Linked DNA regions of Homo sapiens. The protein of the gene in region 1 purifies or fractionates together with the protein of each later gene. This does not show direct contact. Each region holds a gene or a part of one and is shown in the gene's direction. Other genes may lie near its edges.

Region 1 (3,500 bases):
GGTTACAAATAGACAATAGGGGAACAAGGGCAGAAACGAGGCCAGTGAGGAAGTTATTGTAATAATTTGGGTAGGAATTGATAGTGGCTTGGTCCAGGGTGACAGCAGTGGAGGTAGTGGGAAATTGGATTCAGGGTATGTTTTGAAGGTAGCACCACTGCTACACCCCCACCTTCTGGCTCCTCTGTGCCCCTGCCAGTCTTGCCACGTCCCAGTAGGCTCCCCTTCCACCTGTTCCTGAATACTCCCACCCAGAATCTGGAGCTCAGGGGATGTGCCCACCTAGGTGATGCTGGCTCTAGCCAGCCACCTGAGCACAGTGGAGTCGGAGAAACAGAAGCTGCGGGCTCAGGTGCGGCGGCTATGCCAGGAGAACCAGTGGCTGCGGGATGAGCTGGCTGGCACCCAGCAGCGGCTACAGCGCAGTGAACAGGCTGTGGCTCAGCTGGAGGAGGAAAAGAAGCACCTGGAGTTCCTGGGGCAGCTGCGGCAGTATGATGAGGATGGACATACCTCGGTGAGTGTGCACAGGCGAGACTGGCTGAGGGGTGGGCAGCCGGGAGTTACCACAGACATGGGGGCAATTGCCCCATCATCCTCAGGGTCCATCAGCTCTACCCAACCTGCTCTCACCTGAAAGAATTCCTTTTTCAGCCCTGACACCAACTCCAGGTGACAGCAAGGGGAAAAACAATATTCAGGTAATTCAGTCAACATTTAATGAGATGCCTACTGTGTACCAGGCATTGTGCACTGCACTGGTGAATGGGGCACACAGAGTTCCTGCTCTCACAATTACAAGCTTGTGAGGGAGATAGATAAGCACCTGGACAATTCCAATCCAGAATTCTACGTGGTACAATTAGGGAAAGCATAACCCAGTTGAGCATGACCCTCCTAAAATTTGCTTTCAAAATGTGTGAATTTTTTTTTTTTTTTTGAGACGGAGTTTCACACTTGTTGCCTAGGCTGGAGTGCAATGGTGCAATCTCAGGTCACAGCAACCTCCGCCTCCCGGGTTCAAGCAATTCTCCTGCCTCAGCCTCTTGAGTAGCTAGGATTGCAGGCACCTGCCACCACGCCTGGCTAATTTTTGTATTTTTACTAGAGACGGGGTTTCACCATGTTGGCCAGGCTGGTTTTGAACTCCTGACCTCAGGTGGTCTGCCCGCCTGGGCCTCCCAAAGTGCTGGGATTACAGGTGTGAGCTACCATGCCCGGTCCAAAATGTGTGAAATTTAACCCTCGCTCAACAGAATGCAGTGATGCCATCTCAGCTCACTGCAGCCTCCGCCTCTGGCTTTCAAACAATTCTTGGGCCTCAGCCACCCAAGTAGCTGGGATTACAGGTGTCTGCCACCACACCCGGCTAATGTTTGTATTTTTAGTAGAGATGGAGCTTTGCCATGTTGACCAGGCTGGTCTCAAACTCCTAGCCTCAAGTGATCTGCCTGCCCTCGGCCTCCCAAAATGCTGGGATTACAGGCGTGAGCCACCACGCCTGGCTGAGAGTGTGTGTTTTCTTGAGATGTATCTGTAGGGAACAAGTCTTATCCAGGAGAACATATATGTGACAAAATACAAAGCAGCAAGTGCTCAGTGCTGGATGAGTGGTTCAGTCAGTGTGGGAAGAATTTCACAGAGAAATGTCTCTGAGGGCTGGAATGGTCTAAGAAGAATTCATAGAGGAAGCAGGGAGCCTGGGCAACATAGTGAGACCCTGTCTCCACAAAAAATTAAAAAATTAGCCTGATGTGGTCGTGTGCACCTATAGCCTCAGCTACTCTGGAGGCTGAGGTGGGAGGATCGCTTGAGCCCAGGAGGTGGAAGCTGCAGTGAGCTGTGATTATGCCACTGCATTCTAGCCTGGGCTGTTGCCAGACTAGAGACTCTGTCTCAAAAAACAAACAAAAAAATAGAGGAAGCAGGATACAGGGATGGGTAGGATATAGGTTGGATTTCCCATTTGAGTGGGTTAGGAGTTGAGATGGATTTTGAAAGTTCATGATGAGGAAGAGGGAGCAGCTTTTTAGACTGGAGTGCAGGGTGTCATTGATAAGGCTTACAGCCTGGAAAAGCTGGTCTGTCCCAGGGAAAGTGAGTAGATGAATTGCATAGGACACATTGGTGAAGCTGGGTAGGAGGGTTGGTGTTTGGATGAGGCTGCAGTTCCTGATGGGGAAAAGCAGATTTTCCTAGTGCGGAATAGGTTAGACAGTGAGGGAGGGTTACGTAGTAAGTCCAGAATGAGCTGTGCAGATGATGGGCACCAGGCTGAGCTAGACACTTTCTGGGTACATGTCAATAAGATCGGCCACACTCCCTTCCCTCAGGAGAGACAGGACAGACATACAATCAACGTAAACACACAGAGATCAGCATAGGGCCATAATTACAAGAGTTAAGGCAAGATTGAGGGTGGTTAGAAAGGAAACTTTTTTTTTTCTTTTTTTTTTGTTTTGAGACAGAGTTTCGCTCTTGTTGCCCAGGCTGGAGTGCAATGGCATGATCTCGGCTCACCGCAACCTCTGCCTCCCAGGTTCAAGCGATTCTCCTGCCTCAGCCTCATGAGTAGCTGGGATTATAGGCATGCGCCACCACGCCCGGCTAATTTTGTATTTCTAGTAGAGATGGGGTTTCTCCACGTTGGTCAGGATGGTCTTGAACTCCTGACCTCAGGTGATCTGCCCACCTCGGCCTCCCAAAGTGCTGGGATTACAGGCGTTAGCCACCACACCCGGCCAGGAAGGAAACTTTCTGTATGAGAAGGAGGGGAAGTCTTGAGATTTTGTCCAAAGCATCTCTGGCTGTTACAAACAAGAGGCCTGAGCTTGGCTGGGCCACTTGCTAGCCTTTCCAGGGGCAGAGACAGGAACAACAGTCTTCTCCTAGGTCCCATCTGTCTGTGATTTCATGGCTTAGAGGGGTCACTGAGAAGGCTACTAGGTAGGGATATCTTGGCCCTTATATGTTGCTTCTTCCCTTCCAGGAGGAGAAAGAAGGCGATGCCACCAAGGATTCCCTGGATGACCTCTTTCCTAATGAGGAGGAAGAGGACCCCAGCAATGGCTGTGAGTCTGCCTCTGGAATGGGAGGGTGAAAAGGGGCAGCAGGAGGCTGGCCCTAGCTGTGGCCCACCCTGTACACAGGACAGTCACCATCTAGAAATAGGTTCTCCACTTTCTCTGGAGACAGGGCAGGGGCTGGGCTAGTACTTCGATTTCCTCAGCCTCCCCATTGAACGAACATGTATTAAGCACTGAATATGTGCCAGGTACTGTGCTAGGCACTAGGAGTACTGAGATGGAAATGGCATAGGTCTTACCAGTAAGGAGTTCACAGTCTAGTGGGAGAATAAACCTGAGACAGGGAGACCATGAGCCCCCCAAGGGAAAGAACCAGGTCTTTCTTACCTTTGTACTCCTGGAACATCCCTTGGTTCATACTTATTAAATAAATGTTTGTTGAATGCATGAATTACTGGGTGAACAACTGAGGTT
Region 2 (3,500 bases), on another chromosome or scaffold:
TGTAAAACCCTGGTCTGATCCATAATTAGTCACTTACATGCGAAGTCTGGCGAGCTCTCTGGCCCTCTGCTTGTGGTGGACCCTCTGCTTGTGGTTAAGCTGGACTTATGGTGGACAGTGTCCCCTTTAGTTCTAAGAATCCCCTATCAATGGTGAACCTCTTTTTTTTTTCTTTGTATTTTCCTCAAGAACTGTGTGACAGAATATCTAGATGTGTGGTTGATTTTAATTTTTTATTTCATTTTATTTTTGAGACCGAGTCCTGCTCTGTTGCCCAGGCCGGAGTACAGTAGTGCGATCTTGGCTCACTGCAACCTCCACCTCCTGGGTTCAAGCGATTCTCTTGCCTCAGTCTCCTGAGTAGCTGGGATTACAGGCACATACCACCATGCCCGCCTCATTTTTTTGTATTTTTAGTAGAGACAGGGTTTCACCATGTTGGCCAGGCTTGTCCGGAACTCCTGACCTCAGGTGATCCACCTGCCTCGGCCTCCCAAAGTGCTGGGATTACAGTTAGAGTCTCCATGCCCGGCTGATTTTAAATTTTAAAATTAAGCCTTGTATAGCCTGGGCAACATGGTGAGACCCTTCCACAAAAATGAATAAATAAATAAAATTAACCAGGTGTGGTGATGTGTGCCTGTAGTTCCAGCGACTGGGGAGGCTGAGGTGGGAGGATCCCTTGAGCCCAGGAGGTCAAGGCTGCAGTAAGCTGTGATCATGCCACTGTCCTCCAGTCTGGGTGACAAAGCAAGACCCTATCTCTTAAAAAAAAAAAAAAAAAACCCAGGTGTGGTGGCCCATGGCCTGTTATCACAGCACTTTGGGAGGCCGAGATGAGAGGGTTGCTTGAGGCCAGGAGGTTGAAGCTGCAATGAACTGTGATTGTGCCAGTGCACTCCAGCCTGGGTGATAGAGCAAGTACTCTGTCTCAAAAAAAAAAAAAATTAAACTGGTTATGAAAGATTGCTGTATTGTCTTTTTCTACGTGACAAGCATTTGTTCTCCATCACGAATAATTCAGTCAAAATCAATTCATTTCTAAACAAAAAGAGTTAAGTTTTCTGTTTTTTAGACTTTACCATCCAGCACAGCTGACAGTCCATTGGCATTACTTTAAAGTAACTTTTTGATAACTGATTCCTAAATTGCTTTTTGAATTTGTTTATTCTATTCATTATTGTTTTGAAGGAAACCTTTGTCAAACCAATCCAAGCGTGGTAGTTAGTAAACTATGAATTTAACGGCACATTTCACCAGTAAGACCCTCCTTCTCAGTATGGTTGAAATCCAGTATCATTATTACTTGAGACAGGGTCTTGCTCTGTCACCCAGGCTGGAGTACAGTGATGCGATCACAGCTCACTGCAGCCTCAACCTCCTGGGCTCAAACGATCCTCCCACCTTGGCCTCCCCACGTTTTGGGATTACAGGTGTGAGCCACTGCATCTGGCCAGTGAAATCTATTATTTATCAGATCTATCTTCATGAAAATTTTGTCTTATTTAAAATAACATTCCAACCCCTTTTCTCTCCTTTAATTAACAGAGAAGTACAACAGTTCCATCCTGCTGTTAGAAACTCATCTGAGGTGAAATTTGCTGTTCAGGCTTTTGCTGCATTGAACAGTAATAATTTTGTGAGATTTTTCAAACTGGTCCAGTCAGCTTCTTACCTGAACGCTTGTCTTTTACACTGTTACTTCAGTCAGGTGAGTAAATGAGCTGTGCTTGCAGAGTTGGAAGAAAGCAGGTGGTTCTTGTGCTGTTTGGGTGCTTTCTTATTCCAAGCTTTTCAAAGGAGGTCTCAGGCTGATGCTGTGTCACCCTTGCAGCAGCCCCACGAAGGGGTTACCGGTGTTGCCCTGTTTTATAGGGGTTATCACTGTTGGTCACCATCCGGAAAGGCTGTGCAATGGAAAATACTGTTCCATGGTTCAAATAAGAAAAATCTCTTTGGGAAAACATAGGTTGAATTCAGCACTATCATCATCCATGAAAGCTAACTAAAAAGCAAAAATCTCATATCATATGCACAAAATCTCTGACTTTGAAATGCTTCATGTTTTAAATCGAAGTTTCTGGAGTGAGGCTGATGGCGCTAAGTTCCTTTCAGTGGGTGCCTCAGTGTCTGTGCTTTGCCGTGTGCTAGGGTTGCAGAGGCAATGGGAAGGCCAGTCCCTCCCCTGGGGTTTGCGCAGAGTAAACTGTGTCTTGGGGTTTCCAGTCGGTTATTTTGTTCCACTTCCACGGAACTTGGGGATGAGGACAGAGCAGCCCCTGTAGCACCTGCTGTTCTAGGCCCTGCATGATTCCGTTCAGTGCAATGTGACCAGGACCGCGGCCCACCGCACAGAGCGCCACCTCACCTCGCACACACTCTGCTGCCCATTCTGGCAGCGGCTCCAAGGAGGCTGCCAGGATTCCTTGCCACAAGCCCGTAGTGGCCACAGCGTGGGGAGGATGCTGCCTGGGAGATCCTGGGACCTGCCTTGGTTGATCTGTGGCTCCAGGTCATTTCTTTGGTCACACATCAGGGCCTCCTGTAAACAGTGACTAAACCCACAGTCATGTCACAGTCAGAAGGTCTTTTGCAGGTTTGCTCCTTGTCAGATCTGCAGGTTGCCAAACAGAACTGATATTCTGGAGTAAATGAAAAGGTTTTCCACAACTTGCCACTTGTAGTTAATATTGGCTGGGTGCTTTGGCTCACACCTGTTATCCTGGCACCTTGGCAAACTTGGGAGGTGGGAAAATTGCTTGAGCTCAGGAGTTCAAGGCCAGCCTGGGCAACATAGGGAGGCCCTGTCTCTACTAAAAATAAAAAAAAAGCCAGGCAGGTGTGGTGGGATGCTCCTGTAGTCCCAGCTACTCAGGAGGCTGAGGTGGGAGGATCGCTTGAGCCCAGGAAGTTGAGGCTGCAGTGAGCCAAGATCTGCACTCTCCAGCCTGGGCAACAGAGGCCCTCTCAAAAAAAATAAACAAAAATAAAACATAGTTAATGTTGTATACACGATGATTGAGCGTTAGTAGAATGTTGACCATTTTTAATAACTTTATTTATTTATTTATTTAGAGATGGAGTCTCGCTCTGTTGCCCAGGCTGGAGTGCAGTGGCATGATCTCTGCTCACCGCAACTTCTGCCTCCTGGGTTCAAGTGATTCTCCTGCCTGAGCCTCCCTCCCCAGTAGCTGGGACTACAGGAGCCCGCCACCACGCCCAGCTAACTTAGTAGAGATGGGATTTCGCCATGCTGGCCAGGCTGATCTCGAACTCCTAGCCTCAGGTGATCCACCCACCTCGGCCTCCCAAAGTGCTGGGATTACAGGCATGAACCACCTTGCCTGGCCGTTTTTAATAACTTTAAACAAAAGAGATATTCGGGTATTTTTCTTTAGAAAAGCTCTTCACCGGCAGTGGCGCACAGAGGCAGCCTCCTGTCCCCGCAGCCCTGTGCACTCCTGCTCAGAGGCTTTGTGCTTGCTGTTTCCACTGCTGTT
Region 3 (4,196 bases), on another chromosome or scaffold:
AACTCTTGCAGGGCAGGGGAGCCCCAAAACTGGGACACCGTCCGGGAAGGCTCTTGGCTTCGTCCAGGAAGGAATTCAAGGGTGAGCTAGAGGAGGAAGAAAAAGGTTTATTGAGGCAGCAGGGTTACAGTTCTGTGACTGTCCCTGCAGAGCAGGGCCACCCCATAGGCAGTGCCTGGAGAGCAGCAGCTCAGGGCACTTCTATAGTCACATTCATACCCACTTTTAAATACGTGCAAATTAAGGGCAGGTTATTCAGAAATTTCTAGAAGAAGGGTGGTAACTGGGTCATTGCCAGGGAATGAGTAAACTGTTCATGGTGCTGGTGCTCATGCCAGCCAGTCTTCAATCTGGCCCTGAGTCAAGCCCCACCTCCTATCTCAAAACTATTCTGCATGGTGCTGTAATGGTGGATACATGACATGTTATGTTTGGCAAAATCCATAGAACTGTAGGACACAAGAGTGAACCTTAATGTAAACCTTAATGTAAATGGACTTTTGTTAATTATGATGTATTAATATCAATTCATCAATTGTAACAAATGTATCACAGTACTGTTAATAATAGAGGAACTTATTGGCAGGAGAGAGAGCTTATGGAACTCTCTGCACATTCAGCTCAATATTTCTGTAAGCCTAAAACTGCTGTGAGAAATAAAATCCAACCTGGGCAACATAGCAAGACCTTGTCTCTACAAAAAATAAAAAATGAGCTGGGTGCAGTAACGCATGCCTGTAGTCCCAGGTATTCAGGAGGCTGGGGCAGGAGGATCCCTTGAACCCAGGAAGTTGAGGTTGCACGAGTCATGATCATGCCCCTGCACTCCAGCCTGGATAACAAAGCAAGATCCTGTCTCCAAAAAATAATAAAATAAAATAAAAATCTACTAATTGAAAGGGAAAAAAGCATAGTATAATACCATTCTTAACAAAAAGAAAAGAGACCTGTGTTTGTGTGTGTGTTAACATTTGAAAAAAATCTGGAAAGCTCTATATCAAAACGTTTATAGAGGCAATTTTGTAGTGTTAGAATCATAGATGATCTTTCCACTTCCTGGTTTTTCTGACTTTTTTTCTTTTTGCAGTGGGCATGTATTGCTGGAAAATACCACAGACAACTGTGAAAGGATTTCATCAACAACAAAAAAAAGATAAAGAAGGAAACACAAAATCTGTTAAATAAGATTTATGTTGGCTGGAGGTTAAAATGCATTTCCAGAGCAGAGTTCAGAGAAAGGCTGGGCTGCTTGTTGCTGGCTAAAGGACAAAGGGTAAGTTTCAGGAAGCAGAAGAGTGAGCAGATGAAATTCAGCACTGGGATCAGGGGAGTGTCTGATTTGCAAAAGGAAAGTGCAAAGACAGCTCCTCCCTTCTGAGGAAACGAAACCAACAGCAGTCCAAGCTCAGTCAGCAGAAGAGATAAAAGCAAACAGGTCTGGGAGGCAGTTCTGTTGCCACTCTCTCTCCTGTCAATGATGGATCTCAGAAATACCCCAGCCAAATCTCTGGACAAGTTCATTGAAGACTATCTCTTGCCAGACACGTGTTTCCGCATGCAAATCAACCATGCCATTGACATCATCTGTGGGTTCCTGAAGGAAAGGTGCTTCCGAGGTAGCTCCTACCCTGTGTGTGTGTCCAAGGTGGTAAAGGTGAGTCCAGGCCTGCCTGGCCAGGGGAGGGGTGGCTGAATGTGCAAGAGTTGAGATTGAGAATGAGAGAGAGAGAGAGAGAGAAGCAAAAACCTAGAACCCAGGGTGCAAATGTGAGTACAGAGAGCTGAGATCTTCTGGGATGGTGGTTTCTTATTTATCCACACAGCATGTTAAAATAGATTCTGGGGTGAAATCCTACATCCCTATTATTAACAAGTGACCCTCCCCCCTACTTCCCGCTGAAGTTTATGAACCACTGTCCTGGGCGATGCCCATTTCAGAAATAGGGAACTGAATCCCAGCTCTGGTAAACAGTTTGCTAATTCGTGGCCAGGCTAGGGGCTCACCATTTCTGCAGTGAAGAATCATATGTTTTGAAAGCAAATAGCACCTGCTGGCTGCAAGACCTTGAGCAAGTCACTTAACTACTCTGTGTTCCAATTTCCTCAGCCATAATCCCCAATACTGTTGCAGTCTTGCCAGTGCACCTTAATGTAGCAGCTTCTCACTGAATTAGTACCCAAGGTTCTTTGTCCTGCATCCAAGAAAATTAAGGAACATGGACACAAACGTGAGCTTGGAGCAAAAGTTCAGTAAGCAAAAGAAGAAAGCTGTCTCCACTGTGGAGAGGGAAGTCTGAGTGGATTGCCAGATTGCAGCTGAATGCAAAAAACTTTTATAAGAAACCACTCTCCTCCCTGTAACTGTTTGAGAAACTTTTTATCAGTAAAGCTGTGCAACTTCCCTTACCTTATGCAGCTGTGGGTATATCTCTAGGCAAGCATAAAGCGCTGCTTCTCTTGTATGTATAACTGTGGATTTGTTTTAGGTAAGTCCCACTCCCTGCGCCAGTTTCAGGCAGGCCGCTCCTCCAGGGCCCAGCCTTGACCATTTACCTAACTGATTTTTCCTCTACTTTCCCTCAATACCTCATAGGGCCGTGTAGATTAAGTAAAATAGTAAGTGTGAACCACCCAGCATAAGCTAGTCCTGGGCATCGTAAAGGACAATGGGAAAAGAACACAGATCCTGGAAGAAGGCCCCCAGGTTTGAATTGTATTTGCCACCTACTAGCTGGGTGATGGGGCTGATATATTATCTCACTGAGCATCCATTTTCCCATCTGTAAAATGGGAACTAATGATAATGGCATCCAAATCATAGCATCATTGTGAGCATTATAGGAGTTTAAGACATGCAATGCCTTCAGAACAGTGGCTAGTGCTCCATAATGTTAGTGATTGCTCCTGTCATTTTATTTAGGGAGGTTTGCCTCACTAAGCATCAATTATTATTTTTGTCGTCTTTTTCAGGGTGGCTCCTCAGGCAAGGGCACCACCCTCAGAGGCCGATCTGACGCTGACCTGGTTGTCTTCCTCAGTCCTCTCACCACTTTTCAGGATCAGTTAAATCGCCGGGGAGAGTTCATCCAGGAAATTAGGAGACAGCTGGAAGCCTGTCAAAGAGAGAGAGCATTTTCCGTGAAGTTTGAGGTCCAGGCTCCACGCTGGGGCAACCCCCGTGCGCTCAGCTTCGTACTGAGTTCGCTCCAGCTCGGGGAGGGGGTGGAGTTCGATGTGCTGCCTGCCTTTGATGCCCTGGGTGAGAGCTCCCAGCTTCTTTTTCTCCCTCTTCCCATTTCTGAGCAGAAATCTCCCACAGTTTGAGAGCTTTTTGCCCCAACAGGGCATCTCTCTAAAGCAGGGTGGGAGGAGATCTTAGGATCTGTCCCGGGGCAAGAATGAATACGGTCATGATCTATCACAGGAGAGACATTAAACAGCAAATTGGCATAATGTGGGGACAAAGACATTTCTTACAGAACATCTGCAAGGCTTACTGGTTCTGTTTAAGGCAAAATGTGTGAATTTTATCTTTCTAAAATCAGGCAGCAAAGATGTGGCTTAAAGTTCATGTTACTCTCATCTTTGTCCCAACATGAGATCTCATCAAACGTATGCAGCACGTTGGGAGATAGATATTTATAATTTGCAGGAACATTTGGACAGGAAGTGTAACCTCTCAGAGGCTCCCTTGCCACATCAGGAGAATTGGTAAAACCACACTACCTGTATCATATCATTATTTTAAGTGATAAATGATCATCTACATTCAGCTCTGATGAGTAATAGGTGTTCAAAAATAGGAACTTCCAGCCAAGTGTGGTGGCTCATGCTTGTAATTCCAACACTTTTGGAGGCTGAGGCAGGAGGGTCGCTTGAGCCCAGGAGTTCAAGACCAGCCTGGGCAGCAAAGTGAAACCTCATCTCTACTAAAAATTTTAAAACATTAGCCAAGTGTGGTGGTACATGCCTGTGGTCGCAGTTATTCAGGACGCTGAGACTGAACGATCACATGAGGCCAGCCAAGGATTCGAGGTGTCAGTGAGCCACGAATGTACCACTGCACTCCATCCTAGGCACAGAGCAAGAGCAAGACCCTGTCTCAATCAATCAGTCAATCAGTCAAAACTATGAATTTCCCAGCTGTATATGAAGGCACCTCAAAACACCACAGTGAACTCACAGAGGGACACGGA
Region 4 (3,500 bases), on another chromosome or scaffold:
AAATGCTTTGCTCGGCCTCCCAGCCCACCTCACATCCGGCTACTCCCTCCAGGGCTGGCCTCCACTCCCCTCCTGGCCCTACCAGCTCTTGCCTGGAGCTCCACATCAGCTACCTAGTAGGCTCCCCTTTCGTGGCCTTCCTAGCCCTTCTCCAGCCAGCAGCCAGCATGGTGTTTAAAAAGATAAACCACTTCATGTAATTTGACCACTTAGAGCCCTTTGAGATTTGCCATGGGTCTCAGTAAGTCCTGACCCCTTTCCAGACCCCACAGGCCCTAGATGCCCCTCCACTCTGTCTCCCTTCCCTTGTTCTCCTCTCCCCCTCCCCTCCCCTCCCTCTCCCCTCCTTGCTCACAGGGGTCTGGCGTCAGCCCCGGCTTCTTACTCCAGGGCCTTTGCACTGCCTGTGCCTCTGCTTTCGGCCCCTCCTTGGATCTGCATTTGGTGGGCTCCATCTAATTCAGGTCCCAGCTCAGATGCTGCCTCTCTGAGAGAGTCTCTGTTCCTGGCCCGTTACCCATTCCAAAGCAGCTCTCAGCTCTGTGTTTTGTTTTCTCTTTATTTATACTGAAATGGTCATGTTTGTTTAATTGAATGGCTTCCTATGGAGAAAGCGATTGGGCCAAGCCAGGTTCATGGTGGGCGCCGCTGGTGCGTGGCATCTGTCCCTGGTGGGTGCCGCTGGTGCGCGGTGTCTGTCCCCATGCACGGTTGCCTGCAAGTCTGCTCCGGGCTCTCTTCCCAGGGGCTGGCACACAGTAGGTGTTCTACGGTTAAGTGAGGCACATGTGGAAAGCCGTCATACTGTCTCATCCCAGGGAGGTCAGTAGATTGAGACTGGCTGCCCCCATCTAGCAAGTCCCACCCACCATGTCCTGGTTTCACCAGCATCGGCTGGTGTGGGACGTGACCAGCTCATTTCCTCCATGCTCTAGGATGGGAAGGACAAGAGGGCGTGACTCTTCCCAGAGTCCCATCATCTCTGATTTAGGAATGGAGCCCTTAGGGTGTCTCACCTCCTCGGGATGCCTAATAGTGTGTTTGGTGAATGCAGATGGACTTAACTGGTCCATAGATCCCCTCTCACCCTGCTGACACGAAGACAAGGATGAAGGGGAAAGTTGAGGCTCAACAACTGAACAGTATTCCTTCTAAATATGTACATTCTTAGGGATTTTAAGTGGAAAACAGGGAGGAGATTTGAGGGATACCCCACCTCGGCAGGCAGCTGGTCAGGCTGCCTGTTGTGACCAGCCTGGGGTCGCCTTCCCTTCATCCAAGGCCAGGGGAGATGGCAAACCTTCAGTAAGCGCTGCCGTACCTGGCAGAGCAGAAGCACCACCCCAGCTTGGAGACAGCATGCCCCTGACTGCTGGTCACGGATGGCCCCTTGGTAAGTGCCCTGTGCTTCTGAGCAAGGCGGGAACGGGCCTCCAGACGCTGGGGGACAGCACAGAGGGAGCTCTGTCGCCCGTGCCTTTGTCCCTTCTCTCGCTGGCCCATTCTCAGCTGCTTCCTCGCGGGGAAGGGCCTTCCTCGGCCAGGGGAGGGAGAGCTCAGTATCCCGGCGTTGCGGAGGGATTGATGTGCTATTGGGGTGAATACGGCGCTCGGTGTGGGGGCGGGGTGGGGGGGGGGAGGGTTGTCATTTAAAGGGGACTTTGGGGATGGTCAGCAGAGGAAGGCGTGGTGTTGGGGCGGAGCATCCGCATCTCCGCGCCCCTTTCCTGGCAGCCAGCGGGATTTCTCCTGATCAGCTATTGCGGCGAATAAGACAGAGTCAACTAAAGGGCGCGCCGCTGTGGGTCCCATTCGCTGGGCTGCGGCTCCAGGCAACGGCATTTGTATGCCCGCCTATTAGGGTGAATGCGACGCGGGGAGTGTGGGTCGCTTAAAGGGCCGGGACTCTGGAAGCAGTGCGTCCCGCTCCTGCCCGCCTATTGCGGTGAATACGGCGCAGCAGTCGGGTTGTTTAAAGGGTCCAGGCGTCCTGCTTGCTGGACTGTGCTGCTTTGGGGCAGCTCCTGGTCCTGGGCGGGAGGGGAGCACTTTAGGGAGGCTCCCCACATTGGCCAGAGGGAGAGGAGCCCCGACGCTGGCCCGTGGGGCAGGAACGCTAGATGCCCTCCTTACAGGATGAACCTCACCCCCACCCCACCCCCTGCTGCCTTAGGAAGTCACCCAAATTTAGCAAAATTCAAGCCAGAGCCAGCAGGCACCAGGGTGGGGCATGTGACCCTGTTCTGGAGGGCTGGTGGGGCCAGGGCAGGGAGGGGGCTGGGCCTAAGAGATTGATGGTGGTGATGGTGGCAGGCACCGCCTCGGATCTGATCAGAAGGCCTAGCCGAGGAAGACGCAGCCGGAATTCTTCACCCCAGGTGCCAGGGTCAGCAGAGTTTATTTGCCTCCTAAACCTTGGTTACCCCGTCTGTAAAGTGAGGCTCATGGCTGGCCCTAGATGGTCTTTGTACACAAGCGCTGGGTGAGCATCAGCCATTGTGTGGGTGACTGGCATGACCCCCTACCCCACCCCTATGGGCTGCCAGTCAAAGGTTTCCACCCTCCAGCCACCATCTCCCTGACTCAGATAGTCCTGGGCCACCCCACCCAGCCGTGGCCCTGGCCCTCCCCAGGTGCACCCTGTCTCTGCCGGCAGACCCTCCACCTCTCTAGCCCTCTCCTCTGCTCCTGAACTTGGCATTGGTCCCAGGCTGCCCTGAGCTGTCTCAGGGGACTCCTGACCTGTGAAGGGGCAGCGAGTCCATGGGAAGCAGTTGGCCTGGGCTCTTTGAGGCTGCTGTCCTCACCTGTAGAGCAGGGACCATAGTACATGGTGTCCCTGAGTGCAGCGGATCCAGTTAGTGGCCTGGCACAGGGCCAGGGAGAACTGGAATGCCTTAGTGTCTGGCCTGCACACTCCCTACCAGCGAGCACTTTGTGGGTTAGGTACCAGGCCTCGTTACCCTGAGGCTGGGGTGCTGTGGACGGGGTGCTGGGACTTAGCATTAATGCTCAAAGACGAGCTACAGAGGTAGTGAGATCCCCCAGCCCCAGGGACACCTGAGAGTTCTACCTCTTCCCCGCGCCCGCCTCAAGAACATACCTGTCTCCTGGGCAGAAACCGACCCTCATGTTTCATTCTCTGTGGCCTCAGGGTGCGTGCACACTCTCGCCTGTGCCCTCAACCTGCTGTCCCTTGTGTTCAGAGGGTGGCTGGCCCGAGGGCTCACAGCATCTGACAGGCTCCCCTCTGAGACGGAGGAAATGGGGCCCCAAGAATGGCAGGGTCGTGGTGCTGCTCCTCGCTGGGCTTCAGTTTCTCCATCTTTAAGGCACCCCCATCCCTGACATTTGCCCGCAACCCCCACACCTGCGGGGCTAAGGCTCCTGCACACGGGCAACACCCCGGCAGGAACCGAGAAGGGAACTTGGACATCCAGAGCTCCCTCTTCACTCCCGAGGCCCTGGCTTCTCCAAGGGCTTCTGTCCATCTGCTCCTG

What was found. The genes of interacting proteins can lie anywhere in the genome.
Region 2: the proteins of KLC4 (region 1) and MCM3AP purify together in Homo sapiens (affinity purification with mass spectrometry; one large-scale study listed by BioGRID and IntAct). This does not show direct contact.
Region 3: the proteins of KLC4 (region 1) and OAS1 purify together in Homo sapiens (co-immunoprecipitation; one large-scale study listed by IntAct). This does not show direct contact.
Region 4: the proteins of KLC4 (region 1) and OSBPL5 purify together in Homo sapiens (affinity purification with mass spectrometry; one large-scale study listed by BioGRID and IntAct). This does not show direct contact.

What each region holds. Positions count from the first base shown.
Region 1 is NC_000006.12:43,062,631-43,066,130, forward strand, and holds part of KLC4 (kinesin light chain 4), read left to right. Parts: intron 1-286; coding exon 287-517; intron 518-2,989; coding exon 2,990-3,071; intron 3,072-3,500.
Region 2 is NC_000021.9:46,268,612-46,272,111, reverse strand, and holds part of MCM3AP (germinal-center associated nuclear protein), read left to right. Parts: intron 1-1,548; coding exon 1,549-1,711; intron 1,712-3,500.
Region 3 is NC_000012.12:112,905,566-112,909,761, forward strand, and holds the start of OAS1 (2'-5'-oligoadenylate synthase 1), read left to right. Parts: upstream 1-1,396; 5' UTR 1,397-1,474; coding exon 1,475-1,654; intron 1,655-2,970; coding exon 2,971-3,259; intron 3,260-4,196.
Region 4 is NC_000011.10:3,158,811-3,162,310, reverse strand, and holds part of OSBPL5 (oxysterol-binding protein-related protein 5), read left to right. Parts: exon of another isoform or gene 1-1,393; intron 1,394-3,500. UniProt on the Homo sapiens protein: Lipid transporter involved in lipid countertransport between the endoplasmic reticulum and the plasma membrane: specifically exchanges phosphatidylserine with phosphatidylinositol 4-phosphate (PI4P), delivering phosphatidylserine to the plasma membrane in exchange for PI4P, which is degraded by the SAC1/SACM1L phosphatase in the endoplasmic reticulum.